Linked DNA regions of Homo sapiens. The protein of the gene in region 2 interacts with the protein of the main gene of each other region in a biochemical or structural test. Each region holds a gene or a part of one and is shown on either strand. Other genes may lie near its edges.

Region 1 (7,978 bases), on a different chromosome or scaffold from region 2:
CCCCCTCACCGGGACCTGCTGGATCTGCGAGGTCACAGTGGTCGTTACAGGGGCTGCCGTGGGGGCAGCTGTGACTGTCAGTAGCTGCTGGGGGACCACACTCTGGACCTGGGTGTGCAAGGAGACGGGCGGGACCCCTGGCGGGGAAGCCAGTGGCAGGCCAGGCAGCGGCTGCTGGGTGTTCCCGGGAGGGCTTCCTGCAGAAATAAAGCATGGGGCTGCAGACACAGACCTCCCTCTCCCACTTTCAACCTGCTCTTCAGGTCTCTATCACCGACTGGCCTTGGATGAGTCATTGCCCCATGTGGCTTCCTATGGACAGTCCCTGCCTGGGCTCTGATGCAAATGCACTGGCTTCAAGCCAGGCCTCCAGTGCGAGGTTGCGCCTACCCCGGCAACAAGCACACCAGGACTGCTAGTAACAGGGCATCTCAAGCAGCCGAGTGGAGCCCCAGTTTCTAAAGCCTGCACAGACCTCTACTCACATCACAGCAGAAGCTTCTTCCTGTGCTCCTGGAAGCCCCACCCCGGGTGTCCCCTCCCGCCACACATCCCCCTTACCTGTAGAGAAGCCTCCCGGAGGGCTGGGGTAGCCTAACACAGGGGTGGAGCTGAACTGCGGTGGGGCTGGGGCTGGGAAGCTCTGTGGCAGGAGGGCCCCTGGCAGGGGCTGTGGGGTGGGGGTCTGCAGGATGCTCAGTGGCACTGACTCTTCCTTGATACCAGGCCCAGGGGAGAAAGCGGGCATGGACGGGTACATCTTCAATGGAGTGGGTGCAGGCTGGGGAGGGGACAGGGGTGAGGGCGCTGCCTGCGGCCCGCTCAGGAAGGCTTCAAGAGAGGAGCTCAATGTGGCAGGAGGTGGAGACAAGCTGCCTGGGGAGCTGGTATCGGGGCTGGCAGGGTCTGTGCCCCCTGCCCCACTCCCAGCATAGGGTGGGTCAAATAGGCCAGGGAAGTCACTGTCTTGGTTGTTGATAAGCTGAAGCATGTCTGTGAAAAGGAGAAGAGGGTGCGTGAGTGAGGCAGAGACTGACCCCCAAACAGGGCATCACACACATCCAAACACAACCTTATTTGCACAACCCTTGTTGGCACACAGCTGTATGTGTGGGCAATGCCACCAGGACAGAAAGCCACCCACAGGAGCTGGTGTTCCCGGACATACAGCCATTTTGCGAGCACCTGTGCTGTCTAAAGCAATGCCTGCTGCTGCGAGTGCATCACAATACCTGGACAAGGTGGGCACCACAAGGCTCACAATCTTGCCCCACAGCTAGGCTGGGGCTGAGCCCAGGGTCGGGCCCAAGACTGCAGACTTCAGAGCCTGAGCTCTTCCCACCATCCGGTATTTGCCCAAACATCTAGAAACATCCTTAGTCCACAGCAAACAGCAGGCTCACATTCATTCACTCATCCAGTGAGCATGTGCTGAGTGCTGAGTGCCCACACTATGCCAGGCACTGCTCCCGGCTGTGAATAAGGGAAATCCCTGCCTAGAACTAAGCAACTTTCTGGGGAGCTGGGAGTGTCCTGTAGCTTGATGTGGATGGTGGTAAACTTTTACTCCTGTCTTCATGGGGCATGCATTCTACAAGACATCCACCTCTGAGTCCACACACATACACACACACACACACACACACATACACACTGCACCGTGGACTCAGACCAGCTTCCAAGCATTTGCCCATGAGGTGACCAACCCTTCCAGACAGCTCTCCTGCCCTCTCCACAGTCCATCACCCCCAACCCCACACAGAACAAAAGGAATCCAGAGGCCCAGGTGCAGCCTTCCCTGGCTCCACTTGGGGCCTGTTTCTCAATGTGTGAAACGGGGGGCACGCCTCCATCCACAGATCCAGCAGCTCCAGTCTTTGGGATGGAGATGGGGATGGGGAGGGAGGAGCAGTCTAGGGCAGAGGGGGTCTTCATATAGGAGCGATGGGCCCCACACCCCACCATTGGCCACTCCTGGTCTCATCCTAAAACGCACCCCCAGCAGGATCCTCTGGGCACTGAATTTGACAAAGCAACTTAGAAACTGCTGAGGAGTGGGTGATTTTCCCCTCCCCTCAGTTTACAGGGGGAAGAGGGGTGCAGAGAGAGGCAGGATTGCCTTGAGGCCCTGAAGAAGTGGTGGGATCCTCTGTGACCAAGGACCAACTGTGCAGCCTGGGCCCACTCTTCCTAGGGCAGCGCAGGATCCCCAAAGAGAATGGCAGACAGGGAAGTCCCCCAAGAGGACCCCAGATCAGAGCAGGGTCCTCATCCACACTAGAAGGACTCTAAGGGTGGGGGCCCATGTCAGAAGGGTGGGTCTGGTCCAAAAGCCAGGCCCGCTGTGGGGCTACCCACATTGATGGGGCCAGGCTAGACCCCTAATCCTCACCCACAGCTGAGAGGGTGATGTGATCATTGGCCCCATTCTACACGTGAAGAAACTGAGCTGTAGAGAGGTGACTTACTGGCCTAAGTTCTTATAGAGTCAGAGACTCAACTGAGTCCAGACCCTATTTTGACTCCAATGCCCCAACCACTGGCCACTACCCTAGACTACCTCAAAAGATTAGCTCACCTCATCTTGGAGACAAGAAAAGACACTGAGGCTCAGGGAGGACCACAAGCAGCCCAAGAGCATGCAGTGGGGTTCAAACCCAGGTCTACAAAATCCCAAATCTATTGTCTCTCTGCCTTTTCTTGCCCCACTAAGAAGCCAAGAGCCAGGCTGCCATCACCAACCCATTACTCAGTGGAACAGACCAAGGCTTAGGGCCAAGCCAGCTGCTGGCCACATGGCCAACCAGTGTGTCTCTGTGTAGAGTTCTGGGCTCAAGTCCAGGCTTTGCCTGCAGCCAAGTAGCCTCAAGACCCAGGCCTGGCCACTCAGGGCTTTGATTTCATCTCTGTAAAAGCAAGTGCTGTCTGTCCTGACTCCTTCCTCCTCATACAGACTGGGACACACTCCCACCTCAGCCCCACCTGGCCAAGGGCCCTCTCCCCCAGCTGGTGACTAGCAGCCTATCTGGCTCAGCCCAGGGCCCTCTAACCCACTCGTGGTGGCACCCACTGGGTCAGAATGCTCTACAGGACCCATGGGGGCCTCCAGTGCTCTCAGGATCCCCAGCCTGAGCTCCCAGCCCTGCCCACCACCAGCTTGAAGTGGAGCCTGGACCAACAGCCTCCTCTCACTGGCCCCAGTTTCCTCATCTGTACAACAGAAAAGACTAAACCCCTTTTGGTACGGCTGCCCGAGGCTTTGCTTGGCAGGCAGCTGGCACCGAGTGGAGACCCAACATTGCCTACTGACAGGTACCCAGGCAGGGAAGCTACTGCAGGAGGGGAATTTCCTAGAGCAGTTGGCAGAACAGGATGGGGTGGCAGCCCCAGTCTTCCTGGCTTCTCAAGTAGAAACTCTCCTGGTTTGTGGACCCCCCAGGTCACAAGTCATCAAGTCATAATGGACTTTCAACTGCAGGGTTTCCCATCCCTTTACCCCAGTCCGTGTGAGCCTCTTCGATAGATGGGGGAAACTGAGGCCTGAAAGAAAAACTGACAATTTTGACAATCTAGGGCTCCCACTGTCTTCCTGAAAAGTCTAAGATGCCCACAATAGGCAGGGGTGCTGAATAGGGCAGACGCTGTGGCAGAGGGACAACGGGCCCTCCTCCCTGCTTCCTCCTGGTCCTGTCCCAAAGCGGGTGCAGAGAATGTAGAGAAGACCACCCTCTCCCTCCAAACCCTCTTAGGTCGGGATGCTGCTTTTGGGTCTCTAAGCAAACCCTTCCCCCTTGAGTTGCAGGGGACACTAATTTGGTTGGAGGTAGCCCTCCACTTCCCCAGCGAGCTGGTAACTGTCACACCTTCTCCCTCGGGAAGGGGCTCTTTCCTGCTCAAGTTGCGTAGCCCGCATGCCCGCCCACCCCAGGAGAACCTGCAGGAGACGGAGGCATTGTATAAAGGGCTGGTGGGGAGGCCTCCAAAAATACCTTCGAAAGTGCAATCCATGGCTCCGCGATCTGCGCCCGCCCTTGGGGCGTCCAGGCCGTTGGCCCTACCCCTCCCCGCGCCGACTTCACCTGTCAAGGCGCGGCGGATTTTTGAAGCCGTTGAGCGCTGCGGCGCGCCCGCCCCGCCCCGCCCCGCCCCCAGCCCCGCCCCAGCCCCGCCCCGCCTGCAGGTCCCGCCCCGCCCCGCCCTTCGGGGCTGCGGGCCGGGCATGGGGTGAGCGCGCGCGGCCAATCAGCGGCCGCGCTGCCGCCTCGCTAGGGCCCGGCCCCGGCCCCCGCCCCACCTCCCCACGGCGGCGGGGGCTCGAGTTTCACCCCGCGGCGCTGAATGGGGTTGGGGTTACTAGCGGACGTCCGCCTTTAACCCGCTCGGTGCCAGCGTCTGCCGGGGTTACTGGCGGTCACTGGCCCTCAGCTCCCGCCCCCTTCGTTAAAGGGTCAAAGCAGAGAAGTCCTGGCCCAACACACCAGAACTCTGTGTTCGAAATCACTGGTTCGCTGGCACCCTGAGCGAGCCTTAACCGCTCCAACCCTCCGTTTACTCCTCCAGAAAACAGGACAGTCATTATCTCCCTGGCGTCGAATGGTAGAAGGGAGATAATATGGGTGCAGCACTTAGTACGCAAGAAGCGTTTAATTAAGGCCAAGGGCTGCCGAGTGGCAGCTGCGGTGGGTGCAGGGACCTCCCCCTTCTAGGGCAGCCCCAGGAAGGGGCCACCCCTCACCACAGCGGGGCTGATGGTCTGGGATGAGGCCACTCCTGAAAACAGGTCACTTCCGGGAAACTGAGGCCTGGAAATAAGGGTTTCCTGACTGCCAGCACCGATGTCCCTCTGCCAGATGGGTGAAGTCTGCCCCTCCCCCTCAAGGCCTCACAACCCAGCAGTCACCAAGTGAGTCCCGACCCACTATTCATTGTAGGGCCCTGGGAAGCCAGGAAGGGCTGCAGTCCCTAGGACAGAAGATGGGTAAGGAAGGGGTGACAGGCTCTAGGGTTCTTTTGAGGAGGTGCCTGGGCCTGTCTTCCCTCTTTTGTCAAAGGTAAAAGTTACACACACACACACACACAAAGTGATCAGAGCCTGGCCAGTTGATTTTGCAGCCAAGTAGACCACCAGCAAAGCCTGCCTCTGCCCCAAACTGCAGGCCAGCGCCTCTGCCTGGTCCACACCCCAGTTGGCTGCAACCTGAGAGGGTGCCTGAACCCTGGGCAGACCCAGCGACTCAGCAGTCCATTGGGGGCTGGGGTCCCTGCGGCCTCAACCTTGCTCTCTATTCAGGACCCTAAGCAAGAAAACCCAGCCATGTCTCTCTCGCAACCTGTCCTCGCCACCGCCGTCCAGCCCAGGCCCTTATTTCCCAGCTTTGGGAGGTTCAAGGACAACAGACGGCCTCTCTAGCATGGCCCAACCCTCCCCTCAGCCCGCGGGTGTTCCCTCACCCCCAAAACAAAACACAGCATTGCTCTTGGCAAAGGCTCTGACATGAGTGACTTAAGACAGGGAAGCGTCCTTGACCCAAAAGCACACTGAGAGCTGAACTCCAGGCATGAGTTCCCCATGGCCTCCCAGCCTGGTTCTTTCATTACTTTGCTCCCCAGTTTCTGAGCCTAGAATGTGGTGAGACCAACAAGCAGATACTAGCCTGAGACAGCAGGGCCAGGGCCACTGTGAACAGTCAAGCCTGTCCCCTCCCCTTACCCATCTTGGCTTTACCACATATTCCTGCCTCTTATTGTGTCTTTATTTGTCTCATCTTCCTGCTCTAACCCCCTCCCATCCCACTGAGGAAGCGCGATGGGAGAGGGCGGTTGCTCTCTGAGCCCCAGGGGCAGCAGAGTCATTAAAGACTCTGATGGGGGTGGGGCGGGGGGGGCCTTCCAAGAGGAGGGGGTGTGACCTGGGAACAGAGGGCTGGCCCTTGGGCAGAGGGCACAGACTAAGCTAAGATGCCCCGAGGAAGGGGGAAGGGCCTGGGTGCCACTGGCCATGGCCAGCCTCTGAAACTCAAGGCCTGGCCAAACCCTGGCTCACTCTCCCCTGGGGCTGATCTACTGGCCAATTTCTTTTTTTTTTTTTTTTTTTTTTGAGACAGAGTCTGGCTCTGTCACCCAGGCTGGAGTGCAGTGACACGATCTCAGCTCACTGCAACCTCTACCTCCCGGGTTCAAGTGACTCTCCTGCCTCAGCCTCCTGAGTAGCTGGGATTACAGGTGTGCGCCACCACACCTGTAATGAAATGTAATTTTTGTATTTTTAGTAGAGACAGGGTTTCACCACGTTGGCCAGGCTGGTCTCGAACTCCTGACCTCAGGTGATCCTCCCACCTCGGCCTCCCAATGTGTTGCGATTACAGGCATGAGTCACCGTGCCAATTTCTGTGGAAGCTGGTCACCAGGTTAAGACTGAAAAAGGAAACTCTAGAGCCAGCCCTGCAGCCTCCCTCAGAGACACACCCAAGTGGGCTATCTGGGGCTGCATGCCAGGCCCTGCTCTTCCTTTAGCCCCTCCCTTGCTGTGTGATGGGGACAGTCCACTCCCCACCCTCTGAGCTCCCACACCTACGATCTCCAGAGGTGGGAATTCTGGGAAAGCAAGTGTGTAAAACATCCATCACTCAACAGTCTCAACAAAGGTTAGTTCTCTCTACAGCAATTAGAATGGTTTAGAACTGGAAAGTCAGGTAGTGAGTTGCCTGATACTTGCAGTATTCACGTTGGAGCTCCATTACCATTCGACTGAGTCTTTTTTTTTTTTTTTTTAAGGGGAGTTAACGGGGCCAGTCTAGAGTAAGGCAGCTGAGGCACCTTGGGTGCACAATTTAAGGAAGAGCCTCTCTTGCCTCCCCTAGTCCCTGTCCTGGAAGCTGGGAGAGCTGGTCTCTAGGGGCTCACTGTGGCACCCAAATTGCGGCCCACCCATGGGTGAACCGGGCTTCCCTATGAACACTGAGAAGGCCCTTGTGGTTCCCACACACACTCTGAACACAGGAAGGAAGAGGAGGCATAGACTCTGGGCCATGGTGGCCCCAACTGCTCCCTAGTTCACCTTCCCCAGGCTTGTGAAGCCCTGCCACCCCTCCCCAAGCCTGGGTTCCTCCTCTTCCCTCTTCTTCTTCCTCTCCTGCCCTGATTCTATCAGGACCCAACAGGAAACCTGAACCCCCACCTGGCATCCCTCCCCAGTTCTACCTTCAAACCTCTCTCTGAAGGCAGATGCAGGCGCCCTTTAATGACTCTGGCCGATGTATTCTGTGAGGCCATGAGGGAAATCCTGGGCAGGCCTCATGGCATGCGCTTGTAGGGCCCAACGCTGACCAGCACAGAAGCCTACAACCCAAACAAGGCCTTGAACCCCAAACAACCTCCTGGAAGAGGGAGCTCTTCACCTGCCCCCACAGCCTTGTCCACAGAACCCAGATCCATCTCTGACAATATCTACTGTGTGCCAATCCTGTGCCAGGCACTGGGGCCATTATAGATGAGGTGGTCAGGGCAGCCCATCTTAGGAGGTGACATCTGAAAGGAGGACTGAATGATATGAGGGAGTGGGCCGGAAGGGAGGGCAGAAGAAACAGTGTGTGCAAAGGCCCTGCAGTGGGCGTGGGCAGGATAGGAGGAGCGGAGGCAGTGAGGGGGTGGAGGCCAGGACGGCCACCAAGGAGCTGGGATTCCAACTCAGGTTGGTCTGTCATCTGAGCCAAGGACCCCAATTCTCCAGGGAATGGGTGGGAAAGGGATTTGCCAATTGATCCCTGCACTACAGACCACAAAGCTGCACCAACTGTGAAGAAGGGTCAGCCACAGGGGAGGATGTGGCACAGGTGCTCATGGGATTCCAGAGCACACCCTCTCGGCCTGCTAATGGAGGCAGCAGGGTGAGGATGGGTGCCCACCATCCCTCCAGGGAGCTGGGCTGCACCCCACCTGCTGTTCTGCTCCCACCAGGCACTTCCTTGATCCTCCTAAC
Region 2 (7,458 bases):
GGAAGGTCTTTGAGGGAGGATTTGAGGGAGGAAAAGCTTTAGATTTCCAACAAATTCCAATGCTTTCTGAGTCTCTCTGCACAGAAAACAATGTTTTCCCCTAGTACCCCAACACTTCGGTGTCTGTCTCCCTACCTAATGGATTTACCTTTGCTTTTCCCTATCTGGTAGAATAAAACCCTCTCAAGTCCAAGCTACCTTCCCAGGAGGTCCTTTGTGAGGGCAGAAGGAGAAGCATAGGTGCAGGAGGATACAGGCTTTGGGAGACAGGCAGACCTGGGTGCAAATCTTGGACCTGCCACTTATCTAGCTATGTGACCTTGGGCAAGCACATTCACCTTTCTGAGCCACTGTCTCTCTGTCTATAAAAGGGATCAGCGGGAAAATGTGTAAGAAGGCAAACAGGACTTGGCAAACAGAACTCAATGAATGATGATGGTGGCGGTGGCGCTGAGTGCTTCTGAGTTAGAGAGTAGCCCATCCTGGAGGCCTTTGAAATCCCCACCCCTGTAAGGACTCATGCCTTAGATCCTGATGCTCCTCACATTCCTGACAACAGCCTCAGCAGGGACCACTCAACTCACTTGGTACCACCTATCCCACTCAACAGGGGCTACATCACATTACAGCACATAAAAATAACTGTTTCCCACACCATTTTCCATCCCTTGTCCCCTTTGACTCTCCCAGCTGTGAGGTAGATGGATGGTATTTTCCTCCCAATTTAATAGAAGAGACAGCTGAGACAGAGTGAAGGTAGGAGAAGTCAGGGCAAGGATTGAGCCTGGTCTTGATTCTGAATCCCCTGTGCTTTCCTTGTATCACCTGAATCTCAAGCAATACTTTGGGCTCCAGACTCTCTGAGGGGAGGAGAAGGAGAAGGGATGTTCTATGTGTGTGACTGCAAAGTCCTCACCACACCTTCTAGGCACTTATGAGCAAGGAGATACATATTATGAAATGTGGCATTTGGGAATGTTCTAAGACCACCCTAATGCTATTAAGAGTGCCGGGCGCGGTGGCTCACACCTGTAATCCCAGCACTTTGGGAGACCAAGTCGGGCGGATCATGAGGTCAGGAGTTCGAGACCAGCCTGACCAATATGGTGAAACCCTGTCTCTACTAAAAATACAAAAATTAGCCGGGTGTGGTGGCGTGCGCCTGTAGTCCCAGCTACTCAGGAGACTGAGACAGAAGAATCGTTTGAACCCAGGAGGTGGAGGTTGCGGTGAGCCGAGATCACAACACTGCACTCCACCCTGGGCGACGGAGTGAGACTCCATCCCAAAAAAAAAAAAGAGAGAGAGGGCAGAGTGGACAGAGAGTCAAATGAGAGGAGGTCTGGGTTCTGGCCATAGGCCAGCTACTGACATCCCAAGTAAACGTGAGCAAGTTTCTGAGGTCCCCATGATCCCCATGTCTGGGACATAAATGGGAAAAAGATGATAGATAGATAATAAATAGAGGCTCAGCTTAGACAAAAAGGCATCTGCAATCCTTGTCATCATTACTTTGACTTTGAAATCAACAATTTAGAGAGCCCACTACCACGAAATTAAAAAATTCTAAAATTTTTTAAAAAACAAAACAGTATAACTTAAAGAGTTCTGCCAACTTCTCAAAAAAAAAAAAATCAGAGAGCACAACATTGAATTTTTTTTTCTTTTTTTTATTTTGGCAGAGGAAGATTGAGTTCCTGGAAATGCTTACAAAATGATTCCTGACACTGGGAGGAGATAGTTAGAAAAAAGAAGAAGAAAAATTATACACATATATAGATAAAGGAAGAAGGTGGAAAGAAAGGGAATAGACAAAAGAAAATAAAGAACTAAAAGAGAAAGAAAAAAAAAGACTTTAAAGGGCCCCAATTGAAGCAACATTATCAAGTTCTCAGCATCTGCAATTCACAAGCCGCTCGCGGTTGGGGCGATGCAGACCCCGCCCCTTTCTCGGGTGTCCGGCGCTCATTGGTGGGGGAGGCAGTCGCCGGCCGGTGACTGCCCGAGGAAAGGTTGCCTGGGACACGCATCCCTGTGTGAACGCATGACGTCCCACCCTGGCGCCAGGCTGTCTGGGGCTGAGTCTTAGATCAACACAGCTGTGGGACCGGGACCCACAGCTGGGCAAAGGAGCGGATTCCTCAACAAAAAATAGGATTGTGAGAAAAGTTCTGAAACAAAAACAGCGCAGACAAAAGCCTTAATGACATCCTTTCATAAAAATAAAAAATGCAAGAGGGGGGAAAAAGCTGGTAAAAGGAGCAGAACTGGGAACAGAAAGTTCAGAGGCATTTGGAATAAGAGGCTGAGGCCCCACCACTGCTAAACAAGTTGCAGAAGGCCTGAGCTAGCCTGTCCAGTCTGCTGTGGGGAAAAAGAAGTCTCTTGGGTTTAAACACTATTCAGTGTTCCTAACCATAACCTGCTTCTTTCAGAATTAGAATCTTAGGCTAGAGAGGACCATTAAAGGGCACTTGCTTCCTCCCAACCTACCCACTATCTTTTTTTTTTTTTTTTTTTTAAAGAGAAAATGAAGCCCAGGAAGGGAGGAAATTCGTCCAAGGGCACACTGCAAATTATTGGCATGCACAGAACAGAATTTTGCTTGCTAATTCCACAGCATCCTTCTGCCTTATGTCACACAGCCCATGGGCATTTCAGCCTGGAAGCATCCTGGGAAATAATAAATGCGAAGGTGCTTTGCAAACCTAAATCACTATACAAGCCTGAGGCATCAGCTGCAGTAGTAGAGGAAGGAAAAGAAGGGAGGAGAATCTGGGTAGACTGAGCACCTTCCACACAACTGGCCCATGCTGGGTCCCCCAGGCAGTAAGAAGACTAAGATCAGATGGAGTGAACACATCAAGTGCTTTGCAGAGAAGAGGCATTCAATAATTATCGAATGAATGAATGAGTAGACCCAATTAGTTCCATTTTATAGATGGGAAAATAGAAGCACCCAGGATAACTCAGCCAAAGTCTACACAATTAGTTTAAACAAAAAAAGAAGAAGAAGAAGAAGAATGGGCATTTGCACAGAAATCTGCCTGGCCCGTGATTTTTCTAGAACCCTCTGGACTTGACCGTTTTGCCACAGAAGTCTGCAAGATAGGAAAAGAAGGATCTTCTCTTCGGTTATTCAGGAGTTCCTACAGCCATTATTTTGCCTTTCCTGACCAAATAGCTGGCACTTGACGGCTGTAGCATGTAAAGACTGACTTGCCCACTCACAGGTTTTCTTCCTCTTTTCTTACTGAAGAGCCTGTCCTTGAAAAAAACATTCCAGGAAGAAATCTTTCTTGGGCCACAGAGCCCTGTGGTTTGATGGAAAAGAACGAGGCTTCAAGACTGGCTCTGCTATTACTTGTAGTGTGACATTGGGCATGTCTTAAATGCCTTCCTTGGGCCCCTCAGCATCTTTCACCTACATATCCAAATTTCACACAACCTTGGACTTCTACAATTGGAAAGGATTTTAAATAATCACTTAGTACCATCGTCTATTTTACTCACAAGGCAATTAAAGCCAGAGTACCTGGGCTTGTTCAAGATTACATGACAAATTATTGTCAGGGCTAGCATGATGAACCCAGGGCTCTCAATTCCCAGTCAGTGTCCTTTTCAACCGTTTTGCGACTCTCTTTGGCTCTGAGCCCCCCTTGTCCTGTTAATCAGTGCCACACATTATCGAACTCTTGTTTCCTGTGTTAATCTTGTCTCCCCAAATTGTGAGATTCTTGAAAGCAGGAGCCACTGTTTTATGCGGAGGGACTCCATAAATATTCACCAATGATTCATTAGGAAAGCAACTATTGGGGGAATCCCACTTGGTCATTTCCAAAATGGAAAGCAGCATCTTGGAAGTGCAGGTCCCCAAATGTCTAGGGAGGTGACAAGAAGGCAAGCAAAGAATCAAAGAATACTGAGCACAGTGTCCTGTTGCAATACAGGACTTAGTTTGCCGGCCCTCTGGTTCCTTTCCTGGTCTTTCAGATGGAGCTGGAGCTACTTCAGCAGGGCTAAGAATAATCAAGTCCAGGTGGCCTGCCCTTCCATAGCAGAAAGGGACAGACAATAGAGCAATGAAATTACCACTGTTTTCTACACAGAGGTGTGTGGAAAGTGAAGAGAGGGGAAGTTAAGAAATTTGCTGACCCAATTGGGTGGGGGGGGGCTCTTAAAAAGGTTTATGTAGAAATTGTCCCATCTGTGCCTCCATATTTAAAACCTTGTCCAAAATTCTAATTGAACTCACAAAGCACAACTGTGCATATATTTAGTTCGTTATGGAGTTTATGGGGCAGAGGGTCCAGGCTCCTTTTTTCCCCATGCAAAAAGCATGGGCTCAAGCTTTCTTCTTTTCCCCTGTTGCTCAAATAAATAGTGTTCTTTGCTCAAACCCCCTTTCCCTCCTCCTTCTGCAATCTCAGCGCCTAGCGCAAATCTGTTTTCTTCATTGTAACCTCAGCTTCACCGCAATTAATTTTTTTTCCCTCTGGTCACAAGATAATTCCTGACGCCAGTGAGTCTGGAGGTCAGACGAACAGCAAATTGGGGAACAAGGCGGCACTAATTCCTTACAAGTTTCCCTTGAAAAATCTTTCGCTTAAAAAAAACGGGGGGTGGGGGGAGCTTCTTTGCTGTTCAGGGATTTATGACCTCGGAGGAGCTGTGGCTCGAACCAGTGTTGGGCTAAAGGCGGACTGGCAGGGGGCAGGGAAGCTCAAAGATCTGGGGTGCTGCCAGGAAAAAGCAAATTCTGGAAGTTAATGGTTTTGAGTGATTTTTAAATCCTTGCTGGCGGAGAGGCCCGCCTCTCCCCGGTATCAGCGCTTCCTCATTCTTTGAATCCGCGGCTCCGCGGTCTTCGGCGTCAGACCAGCCGGAGGAAGCCTGTTTGCAATTTAAGCGGGCTGTGAACGCCCAGGGCCGGCGGGGGCAGGGCCGAGGCGGGCCATTTTGAATAAAGAGGCGTGCCTTCCAGGCAGGCTCTATAAGTGACCGCCGCGGCGAGCGTGCGCGCGTTGCAGGTCACTGTAGCGGGACTTCTTTTGGTTTTCTTTCTCTTTGGGGCACCTCTGGACTCACTCCCCAGCATGAAGGCGCTGAGCCCGGTGCGCGGCTGCTACGAGGCGGTGTGCTGCCTGTCGGAACGCAGTCTGGCCATCGCCCGGGGCCGAGGGAAGGGCCCGGCAGCTGAGGAGCCGCTGAGCTTGCTGGACGACATGAACCACTGCTACTCCCGCCTGCGGGAACTGGTACCCGGAGTCCCGAGAGGCACTCAGCTTAGCCAGGTGGAAATCCTACAGCGCGTCATCGACTACATTCTCGACCTGCAGGTAGTCCTGGCCGAGCCAGCCCCTGGACCCCCTGATGGCCCCCACCTTCCCATCCAGGTAAGCCTCGAAGTCGGGACAGGGCTGAACACCCAGGCAAGGATGCTGCGGGACCCTCGGAGCTCCCGATTGCCTCGCGTAACTCTTCCCTCTTTTCCTCTAATCAGACAGCCGAGCTCACTCCGGAACTTGTCATCTCCAACGACAAAAGGAGCTTTTGCCACTGACTCGGCCGTGTCCTGACACCTCCAGGTGAGTATCTCCTCTCTTGGAGAGGGAGGTTTAAACGGCAAGTCCTGGAGTTGGCAGACGTTTTGAAAAATTGCCACTCACTCGGTTTAGGGAAACTGAGGCCAGAGAGGGACAAGTGACTTGCCCATGGTTGCATCAAATGAATGGCAGAGTCAGTTTCCATGTGATGTGCATTTAAGCCTTAAATGCGCCTGGGCCCTGCCCTCCCGCAGTGGCCGAGGGTCTGGCAAAGTAGACATGGGTCCGACTAAATACAAGTCTTTCTGTTCCATGTTGTATAGGGAGCTGTCTTCGGCAGCCCCCTCCCAGCTAGTGTCAATTCCAAGTAGGAGGGGTAGCGCAAGCTCCGCCTGTGGTCTTTGGCGCCAACTGGGTGGGGGCAGCGTGGGGCGCGGAGTTATCAGCTGGAGGTACAGACCAAGTTTCCTCCCTGGCGCCGGCCAGTCTGCGGACGGCCCCCGCCTCGGCACGCTCGGCGGAAACTGACTGCTCCTTGGTCTTCTTTCCTCCCCCGCCCAGAACGCAGGTGCTGGCGCCCGTTCTGCCTGGGACCCCGGGAACCTCTCCTGCCGGAAGCCGGACGGCAGGGATGGGCCCCAACTTCGCCCTGCCCACTTGACTTCACCAAATCCCTTCCTGGAGACTAAACCTGGTGCTCAGGAGCGAAGGACTGTGAACTTGTGGCCTGAAGAGCCAGAGCTAGCTCTGGCCACCAGCTGGGCGACGTCACCCTGCTCCCACCCCACCCCCAAGTTCTAAGGTCTCTTCAGAGCGTGGAGGTGTGGAAGGAGTGGCTGCTCTCCAAACTATGCCAAGGCGGCGGCAGAGCTGGTCTTCTGGTCTCCTTGGAGAAAGGTTCTGTTGCCCTGATTTATGAACTCTATAATAGAGTATATAGGTTTTGTACCTTTTTTACAGGAAGGTGACTTTCTGTAACAATGCGATGTATATTAAACTTTTTATAAAAGTTAACATTTTGCATAATAAACGATTTTTAAACACTTGTGTATATGATGACACCCGTCTCCATTAAGTACTAATGATGCTTTCTCGCACATGGCCGAATTTTGGGAGCTTTGGGAAAGTGAACTTGCTTATTCTACGAGAGGGAAATGAAAAACTGCCTGGTTGAGAGGGGATGGGGTGGAGAGAGAAGGGTTCATGATGGGAGTCTCATGTCCATTGAGGGATGGGTGCAGAGAAAAGTTCTGGGCTCTGCTCATTATTTCAGAGATGAAACCAGAGACTGGTGCAAGCTTGCCCAGCAAGTTGGTGGCTCAGGCAACTTGAAAGTTGGTGGCTCAGGCAACTTGAAAACTGAGTTTTCATGTCCCTTGAGATCTAGCAGTAGCTTTCCTCTTTATTGTTACTATTGACTATGCCTTTCTAGCAGGGGATGTGGTAAGAGGAGAGCCTCAAGTTTGCTTCACCTGGTGCCCAGGCATGGGTGGTGGTTGATAGACCAATTCCAAAAATGAATAAACTGATAACTGGGCCTGGTTTCATTTCCTTCTTGCTCTCTGGGCTGGCTTCCTTGCGGGCTTCCAAAGTTGGAAAAAAGAGGGAGGTCTCCTGAAATGGATAAAGATTTGGATGCTGGTTGGGAAGTACTGATAGTAATCCCTTCTTTAATGCTAGGTGGTTGTGGAGTCCGACCCTGAACAAGGAATGTGAGGCAGAGACTCCACAGTCCTCATTTCTGCTGGTATTTCTACATCACCTCCATTGGGAACCTATTCTGTAAGCATCCCTATCCCTATTTCAGAAATGGGGAAAGGGAACCTCTGTGGGTAATGCTTCTGAACCAGGTTTTCACAGCCTTTGAGAGGTAGAGATGGGATTTGAACCGTGACTTGATTGTGGTGAACAG
Region 3 (4,760 bases), on a different chromosome or scaffold from region 2:
GGGAGGCTTGCTCTGGTTTGAGCACTGAATGGGGATTTATTGTGAACACACGGTTGAGACTTAAGCCTATAAATCTTGTACTGGATTACTGTTTCTTAACGAAGGAATGACAGATCTCTTATTTTGTCGGTGCATTTTAATGTGCAATGACGTGATTGATAGAAACCAAACAGCAGCTATTAAAATGTCAGATGCAGACTTGATGCTCTTAAAAGTTTGGCTTCTGGAGTTTAATATACTGTGAGCAAATAGACTTGAATTTCTCTTTTATTCCCAACATAGAGCGTGCAACAGAAACATCTGTCTTAACTTTATACAGTTGGAAAAATATCTTAAACTAATAAACAAATGAGGCAGAGGTGAGCCTACCTAGTTGTGGAATAGTCAGTTAATGAGATTGAGATGAGTTAAGCATCCCAATATCTAATGCAAAATGTGGAAATATGGATGATGATTTATGTTCTTTGATTATGTTCTAATATGATGTTTGATATGACAGGTTGTTCCAATAAATCATTTCAGCAATAAATATTTTCAAAAGACAATAGACCTTATTTATCTATTAATTCATAAACATTGGGTACATTCTACATGCACGGCATAAGAACAGAGAGAAATACAATAAATGTGACAGTATTTTCAAATATTTTGTTTCTGAGACATTTTGATAAGCAAATATCATACTAGAAGGGTTCTTCTGAGAATTATTACATCCTATCCTAACCTGTGAATATGGAACTTGATTATTTTCCCATGATGACTTGATGGAAACCACTCGCCAACCAACAACAACAAAAAGGAGAGCTCATTTACAACAATGCAGTCATTTATTTATTGAGTATGTGCACATTATGGTATTATTACTATACTGATTATATTTATCATGTGACTTCTAATTAGAAAATGTATCCAAAAGCAAAACAGCAGATATACAAAATTAAAGAGACAGAAGATAGACATTAACAGATAAGGCAACTTATACATTGAGAATCCAAATCCAATACATTTAAACATTTGGGAAATGAGGGGGACAAATGGAAGCCAGATCAAATTTGTGTAAAACTATTCAGTATGTTTCCCTTGCTTCATGTCTGAGAAGGCTCTCCCTTCAATGGGGATGACAAACTCCAAATGCCACACAAATGTTAACAGAATACTAGATTCACACTGGAACGGGGGTAAAGAAGAAATTATTTTCTATAAAAGGGCTCCTAATGTAGTACTGCTTGAAAATGGTACATTTTTGTTGTAGATTATTTTAAACATAATGCTATAGTAATATTTTGAAGATTTGAGCTGTTATTTCCATTTGTTTTTACACTGTGACTAAATGATTAGGTTTTAGTTTTAGACTCTAAACGGAACCTGAATTAATAGGAAATAAACACGGTACTATAGTTGTCCTATGGTGCCCCTATGGGTGATGGGTTCCAAGAACCCCCTAGGATACTAAAGTCCATGATGTTCAAGTCCCTTATAGAAAATGGTGTAGTATTTGCATATAACCTATGCACATCCTACCATACACTTTAAATCATCTCTAGATTACCTATAATAGCTAATACAATGTAAATGCTTTGTAAATAGTTGTTATACTATATTGTTTAATGACAAAAAAAAGTTTGTACATGTTCAGCAAAGGCGCAACCATCCATTTTTTTCCCCAAATATTTTTGACCCACAGTGGGCTGAATCACAGATGCGAAGCCTATGGACATGGAGGGCCAACTGGACAAGCATAAGCAGGGGATACTTTTTAGGTTGCTACTTCAGCAGGCAACATTCAGACCATGGAAGTCTAGAGAAAGATTATAAATCTGAACTTACCGCTAAAAATTTTAAAATGGGAAATAAATCCAAGGAGTTTTTAGTCATGCATTATGATTTTAATCTATGTTATGCCAAGTACAGCATTCCAAAATATACATCTAGAGACTAAAAGTAAATGCTCTATAGTGAAGAAGTAATAATTAAAAAATGCTACTAATATAGAAAATTTATAATCAGAAAAATAAATATTCAGGGAGCTCACCAGAAGAATAAAGTGCTCTGCCAGTTATTAAAGGATTACTGCTGGTGAATTAAATATGGCATTCCCCAAGGGAAACAGAGAGATTCTTCTGGATTATGTTCAATATTTATTTCACAGGATTAACTGTTTTAGGAACAGATATAAAGCTTCGCCACGGAAGAGATGGACAAAGCACAAAGACAACATGATACCTTAGGAAGCAACACTACCCTTTCAGGCATAAAATTTGGAGAAATGCAACATTATGCTTCATGAATAATATGTAGAAAGAAGGTCTGATGAAAATGACATCCTTAATGTAAGATAACTTTATAAGAAATCTGGGTCAAATAAAATTCTTTGAAGAAAACATCCAAATGTCATTGACTTATCAAATACTATCTTGGCATATAACCTATGAAGGCAAAACTAAACAAACAAACAAAAAGCTCACACCAAACAAAACCATCAACTTATTTTGTATTCTATAACATACAAGACTGTAAAGATGTGACAGTGTACATTATATGACAATGCACATTAGCCAGCAAGTCTTTTATAGGTGGTTTCAGCAGCAACGATAAATAATGCAGAATTCAGCTCCAGCACTTTATTTCAAAAGAAATTTCCTGCCTCCCTCCAAGATGCAGGGTGAGGAGGTAGCTTGGGGTTGCTATTGGAGAAGTATTCAGTTTGCTACTTTGTGTCACCCCTTGCCATTCTTTTATCCCCAGTTAATTATTATCTGCATATAATATAAATCTGCTAGACCATAAATTAACAGCTTTCAGGACAGATGCCTTGAAAGTTCTTAGGGAGGTTAAACAAATATTGTAGCCTAAAACCTCCTCTATAACAAACATGCACACAATGGAAGTGATGTCGTAAGTGAGTGATGGGGCAGGAAGGACCTAGGGCTCTGTCTCGACTATAAAATCACCTTGCCCCAAACAAATTTAAATTATAACTTAGGAGGTTCATGGACTTTCATCCATTCTGGAAACAAAGAGAAAAACCAAATCAAATACCAGAATCTGTTTTCTCACTGGGCAAATAGCAACAGGATCCACAGTTTTACCACAATTGTTTCCCTGTCTCCATGTGGTATCTACATAATTCTTTTCCCAAAGGAGGAAATCAAATAACAGGCCAATCTGAGTAATTAAACTCCCCTCCCAACACTACCCAACCTCTGTGAATAAAAGCTTTCCAAACTTTGTGATCACATTTGAAATTGGTTCACTTATTATTGAGAGAAAACCACAAAAAGTCTCAATTTCATCACATCCTCAAACCAATCTTTTAATTTTTAAATGCAGAAGAAGAAACAAAACGAAACAAAAAGATCATTCTGCAAAGAGACCTCTCAACTCTTCATCAGCCAGTGGCATAACTCAGAAACTGATTTAACTAATTTATTATTTGAGAAAAGGGGATTGAAAAACAATTGGGGGGTATAATCTTCTGATTCACAATTCCCAGCCACATTCTTTTCTATTTATTCTCTCTCTCTCTTTTTTTTTTTTTTTTTTTTTTTTTAAGAGCCGGAGTCTTGCTCTGTCACCAGGCTGGAGTGCAGTGGTGTGATCTCAGCTCACTGCAACTTCCGTCTCCTGGGTTCAAGAATTTTCCTGCCTCAGCCTCCCAAGTACATGGGACTACAGGCACGCCCCACCATGCCCAGCTCATTTTTGTATTTTTAGTAGAGACAGGGTTTCACCATGTTGGCCAGGATGATCTTGATCTCTTGACCTCATGATCCGCCCGTCTTGGCCTCCCAAAGTGCTGGGATCACAGGCGTGAGCCACCACACCTGGCCCTCTATTTATTCTCTTTAAAGAGAGAGAAAACTATGAGAGGCCAAAATTATTTAATTAAATCTTTACCTTAGCACAAGGGAAAAAAATGGAATTTGCCTAATATAGGTGATGAAGCATACACAATGAATAGAAACAATCACATTTTAGTAAAAGGCAAAAATTTGAGACTTATAAGCTATATGGTAGCTTATTTTTGGGTGGGGAAGAAATGAGAAAAGAATATAACATCTCTTACTGGCATGACACATTTTGATAAAAAATCTTATTGTCCTTTCCTACTAGAATGATCCACTGTAAGGCAAAAATAATATACAAGCAAAGTTTTTTTTTGGAGACAGAGTCTCACTCTGTCACCCAGGCTGGAGTGCAGTGGTACGATCTTGGCTCACTGCAACCTCTCCCTCCCGGGTTCAAGTGATTCTCGTGCCTCAGCCTCTTGAGTAGCTGGGATTACAGGCGCGTGCCACTGCGTCCGGCTAATTTTTGTATTTTTAGTAGAGATGGGGTTTCACCATGTTGGCCAGGCTGATCTCAAACTCCTGACCTCATGTGGTCCACCCACCTTGGCCTCCCAAAGTGCTGGGATTACAGGCGTGAGCCACCGCGCTCAGCCTACAAGCAATTTTTTAAAAACTGACACCTATTACTGATAAAATTCTCTGTTTAAAATCCTATTTACTATTTTAAAGATAAGTATTAGTTTTTTTTTAAATACAATAATTCTGTTATTGATAAAATTTAAGGCATTTTCATTGCCTTTTGCAGATTTACTCATAACTACCTAACAAGGAAAGAAGGTATAATTATTTCAGATTGGATTATTTATTCTAAAATTAAATTCTTCACTAATTTATTCTAAGATGAATTTAATAGTCCATCAGGAAATTGGTTTTTATAAAGCTTATTTTATGGGCATAAAATACAGGAAA

What was found.
Region 1: the proteins of ID3 (region 2) and SREBF1 form a complex in vitro, tested with the Homo sapiens proteins (one study listed by BioGRID).
Region 3: the proteins of ID3 (region 2) and PDLIM5 form a complex in vitro, tested with the Homo sapiens proteins (one study listed by IntAct).

Annotation. Positions count from the first base shown.
Region 1 is NC_000017.11:17,819,529-17,827,506, forward strand, and holds part of SREBF1 (sterol regulatory element-binding protein 1), read right to left. Parts: intron 4,103-7,978; exon of another isoform or gene 4,080-4,102; coding exon of another isoform or gene 3,990-4,079; intron 994-3,989; coding exon 562-993; intron 198-561; coding exon 10-197; intron 1-9.
Region 2 is NC_000001.11:23,557,065-23,564,522, reverse strand, and holds ID3 (DNA-binding protein inhibitor ID-3), read left to right. Parts: upstream 1-5,021; 5' UTR 5,022-5,096; coding exon 5,097-5,396; intron 5,397-5,503; coding exon 5,504-5,563; 3' UTR 5,564-5,588; intron 5,589-6,107; 3' UTR 6,108-6,597; downstream 6,598-7,458. UniProt on the Homo sapiens protein: Transcriptional regulator (lacking a basic DNA binding domain) which negatively regulates the basic helix-loop-helix (bHLH) transcription factors by forming heterodimers and inhibiting their DNA binding and transcriptional activity.
Region 3 is NC_000004.12:94,664,272-94,669,031, reverse strand, and holds the end of PDLIM5 (PDZ and LIM domain protein 5), read right to left. Parts: 3' UTR 3,008-4,760; coding exon of another isoform or gene 3,006-3,007; 3' UTR 809-3,005; downstream 1-808. UniProt on the Homo sapiens protein: May play an important role in the heart development by scaffolding PKC to the Z-disk region. May play a role in the regulation of cardiomyocyte expansion. Isoforms lacking the LIM domains may negatively modulate the scaffolding activity of isoform 1.